Linked DNA regions of Homo sapiens: region 1 is linked to region 2. Evidence: fine-mapped expression QTL. A gene starts in region 2. The other region holds a variant in brackets. All regions are shown on one strand. Distances are from middle to middle.

The links. PIP is the estimated chance that this variant, and not a neighbour inherited with it, causes the effect. A credible set is the group of variants that fine-mapping cannot tell apart.
Region 1: its variant is the best candidate, but not a certain one, in a credible set for the expression of TSPAN6 in ovary (GTEx, PIP 0.82).

What each region holds. Positions count from the first base shown.
Region 1 is chrX:100,674,522-100,679,903 of GRCh38, reverse strand. SRPX2 (sushi repeat containing protein X-linked 2) reads right to left here. Exons shown (of 11, transcript NM_014467.3): 11 at 4,116-5,382. It overlaps SYTL4 (synaptotagmin like 4), which reads left to right. Exons shown (of 20, transcript NM_001370165.1): 18 at 492-591; 19 at 1,305-1,513; 20 at 3,728-5,382. The coding sequence ends at 3,876. Among named protein-coding and RNA genes, the nearest start is that of SRPX2, 33 kb to the right of the region's middle. The variant C/A (reference allele first, on the strand shown) is at 2,381.
Region 2 is chrX:100,633,539-100,638,920 of GRCh38, reverse strand. TSPAN6 (tetraspanin 6) reads left to right here and starts at 2,115. Exons shown (of 8, transcript NM_003270.4): 1 at 2,115-2,313; 2 at 3,175-3,363; 3 at 3,669-3,743; 4 at 4,892-4,990; 5 at 5,382. The coding sequence starts at 2,227. RefSeq lists enhancers at 1,920-2,535, 2,536-3,151.

The DNA.
Region 1 (5,382 bases), 41 kb before region 2:
CTGAGGGGAAGGGACAAGTGGAGAAAGAGATATTTAAATTGGGAGGTGAGGATTGAAATTGATGATGTCTGAAGAGTCCTGTGAAGTAGGGGTGGAATCGAGAACTCAGATGGAGGAGTTCCCTCTTTTTTAAATCATTGAACAAATATCAGGCAACTTTATGTCTCTAAGCCTCAATTTTCTCATGTACAAAATGAGGACAAAAATAGTGTGACTCTCCTAGGGTTGTTTTGAGAATTAAATGCTTAACATGGTATCTGGCACATAGCCAGTTTTCAATAGGCATTTATTAATATTGTGGTTGTTATTAATACAGCACCTATTGCTTACTGGCAGGCACTGTGCTAGGCACTGAGGAGACAGGACAGGCACGGTTCTGTTATGGAGCTCGCTGCCTTTAGGAGCAAGCAAAGAAAGTGCTGCATAAACAAAGCTCAAGATAAATCTAGAGGTGGAAGGGGCTCACTTGCTATGGCTGACATCCCTTACAGGTAAAGGTGGGGAAGGGGGAGAGCTCCAGGTGTGGATCAAAGAAGCCAAGAACTTGACGGCTGCCAAAGCAGGAGGGACTTCAGACAGCTTTGTCAAGGGGTGAGTCCCTAGACCAGCCCCAAATTAACCAGTTTCAGAACAAGAGAGCTAAGAGAAGAATTTAACTTTCTCTGTGGATATTATCCAGTGTGTCTTACCACTCCCGGCAACCAAATTTGTTCCTGAAATTAGGTAATGACAAAACCTTCACCACCTTTGCACTGGTCTGGGCTGTAGACTTGATAATCCAAAGAGGAGGGCTGCAGACAGGTTCTGACTTTTGTCTGACTCATGTTCTTAATTAATTCTGGGTGAAAATCTGTGTCTTCTGACTGTCTAGATTTGGGAACTCAGGGCTTTGTTTCCCACAGTTTTTAAGCTTTCCGAAAATTACAGATTACCTACTGACTTAATTTATCTAGAAATCATGTTTGGCTAAGTTTATAGATATTACTATTGGTTTTATTTAAAGAGATAAATTGTCTAGTAGAAACAAAGCCAAATATTTAAAACCCATTTTCAGTGGAGCACAGAATAGCCTCACTAATACTATTATATTCATTTTCTCTCTAGGTTAAAGGAATTGAATCAGGTGAATGATCTAGTAGAGGTAGTGGGAACTCTGCTTCAGCAGATTCAAGGAGGGGCGTGTGTAGTAGGATCTGGATGTGGGTTCATCTTCTTGGGCTAGGCCTGTGGTAGGGGAAAGGGGAATTTAGAGAGATAACTGTCCGCTTTGAGTAGGCTGTTGATTACTCCCCGCCCTCTGCCAGATACCTCCTTCCCATGAGGAACAAGGCCAGTAAACGTAAAACTCCTGTGATGAAGAAGACCCTGAATCCTCACTACAACCATACATTTGTCTACAATGGTGTGAGGCTGGAAGATCTACAGCATATGTGCCTGGAACTGACTGTGTGGGACCGGGAGCCCCTGGCCAGCAATGACTTCCTGGGAGGGGTCAGGCTGGGTGTTGGCACTGGTGAGATCCCCTCCCCCATCCTCACTTGTTTGAAGGCTTCTTGTCTATTTTACTCCTATTACCATTCCCGCCCCCCAACACAAAGCTCCTCTGTGATGACAGTTGTCTTCTTTCCTTTCAGTTAACATTCAGCCAATACTTATTGAGTGCCTACTATGTGCCAGGACTAGGGGAAGGCTGAGCTCATGCACTGATATGTGCACAGATAAATGTGACCCTGATTGCCAGGAACTTCATAATCTTCCCACCAAAAAAATCTACAAACCTACCTATATGTATGTACCTATACATTCCATCTTCCATGCTGTTAATAATGAAAGAAGGGTCATTGCTAGCAAAAGCCAAGCTCTCTCCAAGTGCTCTGGGCCACCTCCCCCTACCCTTCTCGATGACCTCACTTCTATAATCGTCATCTCTCAGTTTCATCCTCCCTACCTACCAGGGGTGAATACAGATATGCTCTGGTATTTCCAATCTTATGAAACAAAAACAAACCTTTCCTTGACTACACGTTCCCCTTCTAGTTTCTTAGAAAGAATTGTCTCCACTTCTCACCTCTCCTTCAGCTCTCCTTCACTGTGATCTGGCTTTTGTCCCACCACTCTGCTGAGCAGTTGCTCTTGCCAAAGTGTTGTTCTCATCTCACTAGAATTTTCAGCACTATTTAACATGCTAGATCACTCCTTTTCGCTTGAAACGCTGAACTTCTATTGACACTGCATTCTGATTCCCTTTTAAGTCACTGCTCACCCCTTCTCAGTTTTCTTTGTAGGTGCTGCATTCTATACCCAAACTCTAAATGTTGGTGCTTGGCAGAGCTTAGTCTCGGATCCTCTTCTTTGCCCTCTCCCTAGTCTCTGCACTTGT[C/A]TATTAATATACTTATATATTAATAATCACACAGAATATTTAACATGAAGCATATAGACTGATGTTTTTACACATGTAAGCCAATTCATGTCAGTCCCCTGTTAAAACCCCTCAGTGGCTTTCTGTTGTGCTTAGAAAACAATCCAAAGTTCTTAACATGCCTACAGGCCCCTGTGTAACCTGGGTCCTCTGTTCCTTTCTGATCCGTCTTGTATCACTCTTCCCCTTGCTCACTATGCTTCAACCAAAATGACTTTCTGCTCTCCAAATATACCAAGCTCATTCCCACTTCAGAACCTTTGCAATTATTGTTTTCTCTGAATGGAAAGTCTGGTTCTTTCTTATCCTTCAGGTCTTGGCTCAAATGTCACCTTCTCAGAGAGTCCTCAGACCACTCCATCTGCACAGTAGTTCCTGAGTCAGTCACTATACATCACCCTGTTTATTTACATCATAATGTTAACCTCACTGTCTGAAATACTCTTATTGGTTTGCTTGTATATTTTCTGTCTTCCCTATTCAAATGAAAGTTGCCTGAGGACAGAGACTTTTTCTGCTTTGTTTACTAGTGTCTCTAGAGCCTAGAAGAGTACCTGGCACACAGTAGGCACTCAATAAATGTTTGCTGAATTAATGGATGAATATATAAGAGAATATGAATGGGGCCACATACGATCCTCACTTCTGACCTGGAGTCTGCAGCTAGAGGAGAGGTGTTTAGCTTTAAAAGAAAAAAGTTGGCCGGGCACGGTGGCTCACACCTGTAATCCCAGCACTTTGGGAGGCTGAGGCAGGCAGATCACGAGGTCAAGAGATCGAGACCATCCTAGCCAACATGGTGAAACCCCGTCTCTACTAAAAATACAAAAAAATTAGCTGGGCGTGGTGGCGCAGGCCTGTAGTCCCAGGTACTCTGGAGGCTGAGGCGGGAGAATCGCTTGAACCCAGGAAGCAGAAGTTGCAGTGAGCCAAGATTGTGCCACTGCACTCCAGCCTGGCGACAGAGCGAGGCTCCGTCTCAAATTAATAATAATAATAAAAGAAAAATGTTTAAGTACAGTTGGCAATAGCTCTGGCATGAGTTGTCAGGCACTAGAACTCTGTAACAGCCTCAGAATAAGAAGTCTCTAGTGACTGTGTGCCATTTGGAGTCTGATTTCATCAACCCAGAGTCTCTTGACAGAGTCTCAGGAATACAGGTGAGGGAGCACTTCCCAGACTGCTGTGGCCATTAGCCCATCTTCGTAGGAAACTGTTATGGGGTGGCTAATCTTGCTGTACAACCCATCTTCCCTGGTGGGCTGAGAGTGGGGCCCCTCTTTAGCCTCTTCTGGTGTTTCTCCTCAGGGATCAGTAATGGGGAAGTGGTGGACTGGATGGACTCGACTGGGGAAGAAGTGAGCCTGTGGCAGAAGATGCGACAGTACCCAGGGTCTTGGGCAGAAGGGACTCTGCAGCTCCGTTCCTCAATGGCCAAGCAGAAGCTGGGTTTATGAGTCCCTGTCCTCTTCTGCAGGTCCAGCCCTGGCGAGGGCAGGTCAGAGGAAGTGAAGAAATCAAGAGCAAAGATTTATAATTTAATGTGTATGTGTGTATGTGTGTATGTGTGTGTGTGTGTGTGTGTGTGTATGTGTACAAACATGTATTTTCTGCAAATCTCATTATGCTGGCTAGAGTGATGCAGACTTGTTCTTCTTTTTAAAGCAGTCTCAAGAATAAGCATTTCTTTAAAATGTTTCTGTGTATAATCTAGTTTATTTTCAGAGTCCATTTTTTCTTATGTCTTTATAAGGTTCACTTAACTTAAAAACAGCTTTTAAAACAACTTTTTATCTTCTGTCTTGCTATCATTGTTCCTACTTCCCTAGGAAGCCCTGGCTACCTTTCGCATTAGGACCAGTCTGGGTTTTAAGGCTCTGGGAAGCAGGGTTGGTTAGTAAAGACAGGAATGTTGGGGAGAGGTGAGTAGTTCCTTCCTCTTTCTCCTCTCCAATTTATGCTTTTAACTTATTTTCTACCTGGATAAACTTCTGGAACTTGGCTTTTAAATTTAACTTTTCTAGTTTTTAAGCAGTTTCCACCTTGCTTTGGTCTAATGCTTTTCTTTGAAATGCTAACAGAATTCCCAAGCTTTTTCCAGTTCTAGATATCTTTACTAGACCTTTGGGGGACTCTTATAATGGAGCTGCTTTTGAAAAGCACTTTAATTAGATAATGTATTTTGACTAAATCACGAGGATGCCCAGTGAGAGCTTCTAGCTGATCTCAGAGGACCAGAGTGACTGAGGGTAAAGTGTCTCACAGCCCATGCTGAATTTTCTGCATTTTAAACTGATACTGCAGTCATTGGAGAGAGAGCTCCTCATTTCTCGAATGAAAGATGAGATATATTCATCCTCATGTACCACATCTGTCTTAGTGTTTGCGTCTGGGGTGTGTTATCAAACAGAGCATGGTCTACATCCCACTGTGTCAACCAGAAGAGCCAAGTGTTATCTCAATTGGCCCAGTGTTTCTCCAGGCTGGGGACTGTTAAGGGCTCTAAGGGAATGTAGACAGAGTCTCCCTGTTATTCTGACTTCCTGCTTGATGAGCTTTCAGTTCCTGTTTTTGCTATTGTTTCCTAAATTTGACCTACATATTACATGGGTGTAGTGTGTTGAGGCTTTTCAAAGAAGGGTCTAGTGAGCTAAGTTTCATCTTCTGGTACTCATTGATCAAACTGACCTTTCTATTCTCATAAGCGTTTCTACCCAAAGTTGTGTGTGGAAGGAGTGTATAGCAGAGAGGAAATCCCTTTCAACAGAGTCAGCTGCTAACTGATTTCCTATAAGCACACTGGATTAAGGGCAGCCACAGTGGTTTCTACTGTATGTATGAACCGAATGGAGGAATGTTTTCAAAGATTGATTTGGTGTGGATTGCAATTGTAATGGAAGGCATAACTTGGGATCCCGGGCTGTAACTTGCTCTTTTGTTTCCCACCCCCCTGACATGTATGT
Region 2 (5,382 bases):
TCTTAGCAATAGTGGTTGGTATACAGTCAATACTTATTATCACAGTCATTATTAATACTTTAAAGAATACATTTATCTAGTGGCCTAGGGAAATACTTCTTAAATTGCCTTAAACGGGATTAGATGCCCCTTTGGTCTGGGTTTGTACCCAAACCCAGGCCTAGGTTTGAACTAAATTGAATTTCTCGGTTTGGTGGCATTGTGGGGGTGGGGAGATGGAAGTGGGTGTAGCAGAGTAGGAGGCAATGGTGCAAGGTGTTGTAGCCATAGGAATATGAATTTCCATGTCAGCATTTGGTTTAATTTGGCACCGAGTGTTATTCAAACAAAGCAGCGTTGTGAGTGGTAGAGGAAGGGAGAGGAGGAAAGTCAACACATTCTTGGAAATAAGATGTGGCTTTTGCTTTGCTATTTTGTTTTTTCTTCAGCTACAGACATATTTCTTTGCTCTTGGGCTCACACTGTAAATCCCTTTCAGTACATATCTAAGTTTCAGAGAAACTTCTCTTTAAGATGACAAGAAGTTATCAAGACTTCCCTTGATCCTTGTTTTTAGTATAAGAACCCTTCAGTTGGGGTCATTTAGCCTAGGGAGAAATCTTTGCATATACTTAGACACCCCCCTCCACCATGTTGAATATTTGGTATTTCCTAACGACTTTACCTCAAAGTGTTTGAAGGTGTATGTAGATGTATCGTTTATCCATTCTCTCCATGTATTTGTGTATTAGGCCTTTCAAATTTTAGTAAAAATTTTAGTATAAAGCCTGGCAATGCAATAATTAATTTTCCAACAGTTGCTGCCTTGCACCTCAGACGTCTGGCAAGATGTTATAGGAACTGGTCCTAGGTCAATATTCGAAGCACAGGGAAGCTCTGTGTGACCAAGTCAATGGAACTTTCCTGTGTTCTGGTCCTGAGGTGTATGTTTAAAGCAACGTTTCAAGCAGAAAAGTTTGAGTATTCATCTCTCCTCCACAAATGCAGGTCTTTTTGCAATGGCAATAGAGTAAATAGCCACTTGTGATATTAAGCTTGTGTCAATGATGAAGGGTTGGATTGCATAGGGAACTGATACAGCCTTCTAACCCCGTTCCTCTAGAGATAACACAAACTCACTTAACACTCAGTCTCTGCCTTCAAAGAGCTGACGCTTTAGTTGAGAAATCAGACCTTAACGCACCTCCTGTGTTGTAACAACATAGACCAATATATTCACAATATATAACATTAGGTTTTAATCTCTCTGTAATCAGCTGGGTTTTGATGGGAAAAACCAGGTGGCTGGAATGTACAGTGCCTTTCTGTTTTAACATTTAAGAGGAGGTCACACTCACCAGGGATTTTTCCATTGCACTCTCTCTTTTTAAAAGTTTACAGCGAATAGCTGAACTTACATTTCACTATTATGTAAAAATACTTTCCCTCAACTTTCCAATTACTTAGGGGATAAAAAAGGAGAGGAATACTGGGGTTTTGCAAAGTCCTGCAGGTAAATTCTAAAGTCATTATTATCTTTAATACCTAGCTTAGAAATTCTTTCAACAAGTGGTGATTATTTTCCTCCATTCACATCTCCCCTTCCTAACCCATAAAACAATGTTCACAAATTGAAAAGCACACAAGTGAGAAAAAAATCAGCCTAATTCCACCAGAGGTAAATTTCACTGTTCCTTTCAGTTTTTGTCTAAGCACACGTGACTGTATGTATTGCTTTGCAATCCGCTTTCTTTTTGCAAATATATTTCTTGTGGGTATTTTCCCATGTATTTTCTTAGGTCGCTTTTAACCTCTTCATTCTTTTCCTTCTCTCTAGGGCACCAGGGGCCAGGGAGGCCCAATCTCAGAGCGCTGCGGGCTCTGCTGGTGATAGAAACAATATGGTGAAGTTATAAGGAGAGGGGAGGGGTGGGGGGCGGGAAAGATTCCTTAGGATAGAAAAAAAACAATGAAGAAAGCTCCACTTGAAGACCTATGAAATTTCCGACACTAGAACCTTTGTATATAGTTTTCGGTAACCTTCGGCAGGGGGCGCTCTGAAATTGTTGCCACTTTCCGGACAGCCTCCCATACTTTACCCTCTACAAAATTGTACAGTGTTTCCGGCCCTTCTCAGTTGTGGACGCTCGTAAGTTTTCGGCAGTTTCCGGGGAGACTCGGGGACTCCGCGTCTCGCTCTCTGTGTTCCAATCGCCCGGTGCGGTGGTGCAGGGTCTCGGGCTAGTCATGGCGTCCCCGTCTCGGAGACTGCAGACTAAACCAGTCATTACTTGTTTCAAGAGCGTTCTGCTAATCTACACTTTTATTTTCTGGGTGAGAGACGAAGGCGCCTGGGGCCGGCAGGGGATCCCGGGCTTTTAGTTGTGGGGGGTGTGACCCTGAGCGGCGGGAGCTCAGGTCGGGAACGGTGTGGGGTTTGGGCGGCCATCGCGCCTGGGACCCCGACGCCGGCGACCAGTGACTGGGCCCCGAACAAAGAGCTCAGGCATCTCGCCGGCGCTGGGGTCGGAGTGCGGGACGAAGGCAGCCGAGAGGCTGAGCTGGGACCCAGACGTACCAGCGTTCGAGTTCGATACGGGAGGCGAGGTGGGGCCTTAAGCCCCCAGAGCACGCAGACGGTGACCCTGGACCTTTGCAAAGGCAAGCAAGGCTTGCCCGGCCCCTTTGAGGGCTCACTTGCATAATAGTGTCTTTCTTTTCACTGCTTCGTAAGAGAGGAGTGTTTCGCAGGTAAGTATGGTATGCCTCCACTCCCGCCAGTCTATCCTTGGGCTTGCTTTTGTGTACCAGTCCTTTGTACCCTGTGCCCATCCCTACCTGGAGAGGACGGGGGAAGTTTCTGGAACTCATAAAATCACGTTTTTTTTTTCCCCTTCAAGGTTTTCTTCCTAAGGTTGGAGTAAGATAGTTAAGGAAGTTTTGATCCCTAGGGCAAATATGCCATGGGCTTGTGTTTACACACAAAAAGATGAATTTTAAGAATTTTGATAAGATACCTGGTCCACAGCCTGCTCTTGTGTGCAGATCCCCCCCTAACCCCTTCTACTCTTCCCCCTTGTCTGCCGTATCCCAGCATATTACACCTATTGTGCCTTAAATACCTCATGCGTTGTGATTTGAAGATGCTGCTGTACACAGTGCGTAACTGTTTGTATTCTCTGAATTCCCACATAGATCACTGGCGTTATCCTTCTTGCAGTTGGCATTTGGGGCAAGGTGAGCCTGGAGAATTACTTTTCTCTTTTAAATGAGAAGGCCACCAATGTCCCCTTCGTGCTCATTGCTACTGGTACCGTCATTATTCTTTTGGGCACCTTTGGTTGTTTTGCTACCTGCCGAGCTTCTGCATGGATGCTAAAACTGGTGAGTCCTTGTTTTCATTAGAATTGATTCTTGGTTTTAGAAAAGTTTTGTATGTTATAGAATTCCTTTGTTGGAACTGGCCATGGCCCTTTACAATTTTTCCTGTTCCTTATGGAAACTTATCAAGTAACAGTTCAGCTGCCAGTTTCCACTTTCAAAATAGACATGTTGTTATTTTCCCTGCCCTTTTCAATGAAAACATGATGAACTAATTGAGAAGACGACCATTATTTTTTCTTTGACTCCCTTTGCAGTTGTGCTATATCTTATTTATGCTGACTTGGACTTTCTTTCTTATCCTGCAGTATGCAATGTTTCTGACTCTCGTTTTTTTGGTCGAACTGGTCGCTGCCATCGTAGGATTTGTTTTCAGACATGAGGTAAGCCTGAATTAGGGAAGCTTAGCATGTTACATTTATCCTCTGAGAGATAAAAATGGATTTATTAAAGTAGAAGAGTCAGACCTCTGTATTTAAACCTGTAGCTGACAATAATGGCCTTCTTGTAAAAATTCTGGTCCACTTCTAATTTAAAAGAAAATTTAGAAAATTGTAAAGACTGATAGTCACCAGAAGAAAATTACTTACTTATATTCCCTGTCGTTTTTCTGTGTATAAATACCTATTAAAACGGAGATAGTACAATTTATAACTTTGCTGATAGGAAAATATTCAAAGCACAAAATTGATAACCTTCTTATGCCTTGCATTTTGAAAAGATTGGATATACTTAATGCAAATCATCAGAAGTTTAATATTGGGCCGGGCGCGTTGGCTCACGCCTGTAATCCCAGCACTTTGGGAGGCCGAGGCAGGTGGATCACGAGGTCAGGGGATCGAGACCACCCTGGCTAACACGGTGAAACTGTCTCTACTAAAAATACAAAAAAAAACAAAAAATTAGCCGGGCGTGGTGGTAGGTGCCTGTAGTCCCAGCTGCTCGGGAGGCTGAGGCAGGAGAATGGCATGAACCCGGGAGATGGAGCTTGCAGTGAGCCGAGATCGCGCCACTGCACTGCAGCCTGGGCAGCAGAGCGAGACTCCATCTCAAAAAAAAAAAGCTTAATACTGAATTAGAAAACAGGTAAACTTGGGGTTGTTCAAATAACATTCGGTGAGTAGCAAAGGCTCATTAATGAGAGTTCTCATAAAGTGGTAGCACAGCCTCCCAAAGTAAGGTTTTGTAGCTTACAAATTCCATAGGCATCGAATTTGAACTCAGTTTAAAGTGGAGAAAAATTAGCAGGGTGCAGAATACAGCAATACTGCATTGCCACTCAGATAAATACATATTCCCACAGCACTTTGAACTTGTAGTGGTTCTCATCATATATTTTAATGTTTTGCTTAGTAGTCCCCTCAGCTAACCTATACCCCTTAGAGGACAGGACTGTACCATGGAAGTTAATTACTATACATGTTGCTGCTGTCAAAGATATGACCATTGGTCAGATTCGAGAACTTATTTGACCTGAAACCAAAAACTTTCTAGAGGATTTTCTTACTGACATTGTGTTTCTTTGCTATAGATTAAGAACAGCTTTAAGAATAATTATGAGAAGGCTTTGAAGCAGTATAACTCTACAGGAGATTATAGAAGCCATGCAGTAGACAAGATCCAAAATACGGTAAGTGGTAACCACCACCTAGAGGGGAACACATTCCCTGTTGCCTCAGAGAAAAGAGCAGAGTCTGGCTACTAGATGTTATCCACCTGTAGGGGAAAGAAGTGTGACGTGTTTCATTTTCCTCACATGTGCACCTGTTCTCTTCCTTCCCCACTTACATCATAGTCCAGGTACAGTTAGTACCAACTATAGCAGGAAAGTAAGGCCAATACAAAACTGTCATGCATGGTGCTAATCAGGGACCCAGTGCTCATCTCTTGAATCAATTGAGGAGAGAGATCATTGAGATTAGTAAATGTTTTGAGCACAAATTGCAATAGAGGATATTAGGTTAAATGTTTGACTACAAAGTTGTAATATAAACTGTAAATGCTTTTGTTGGGTTTTTCAGT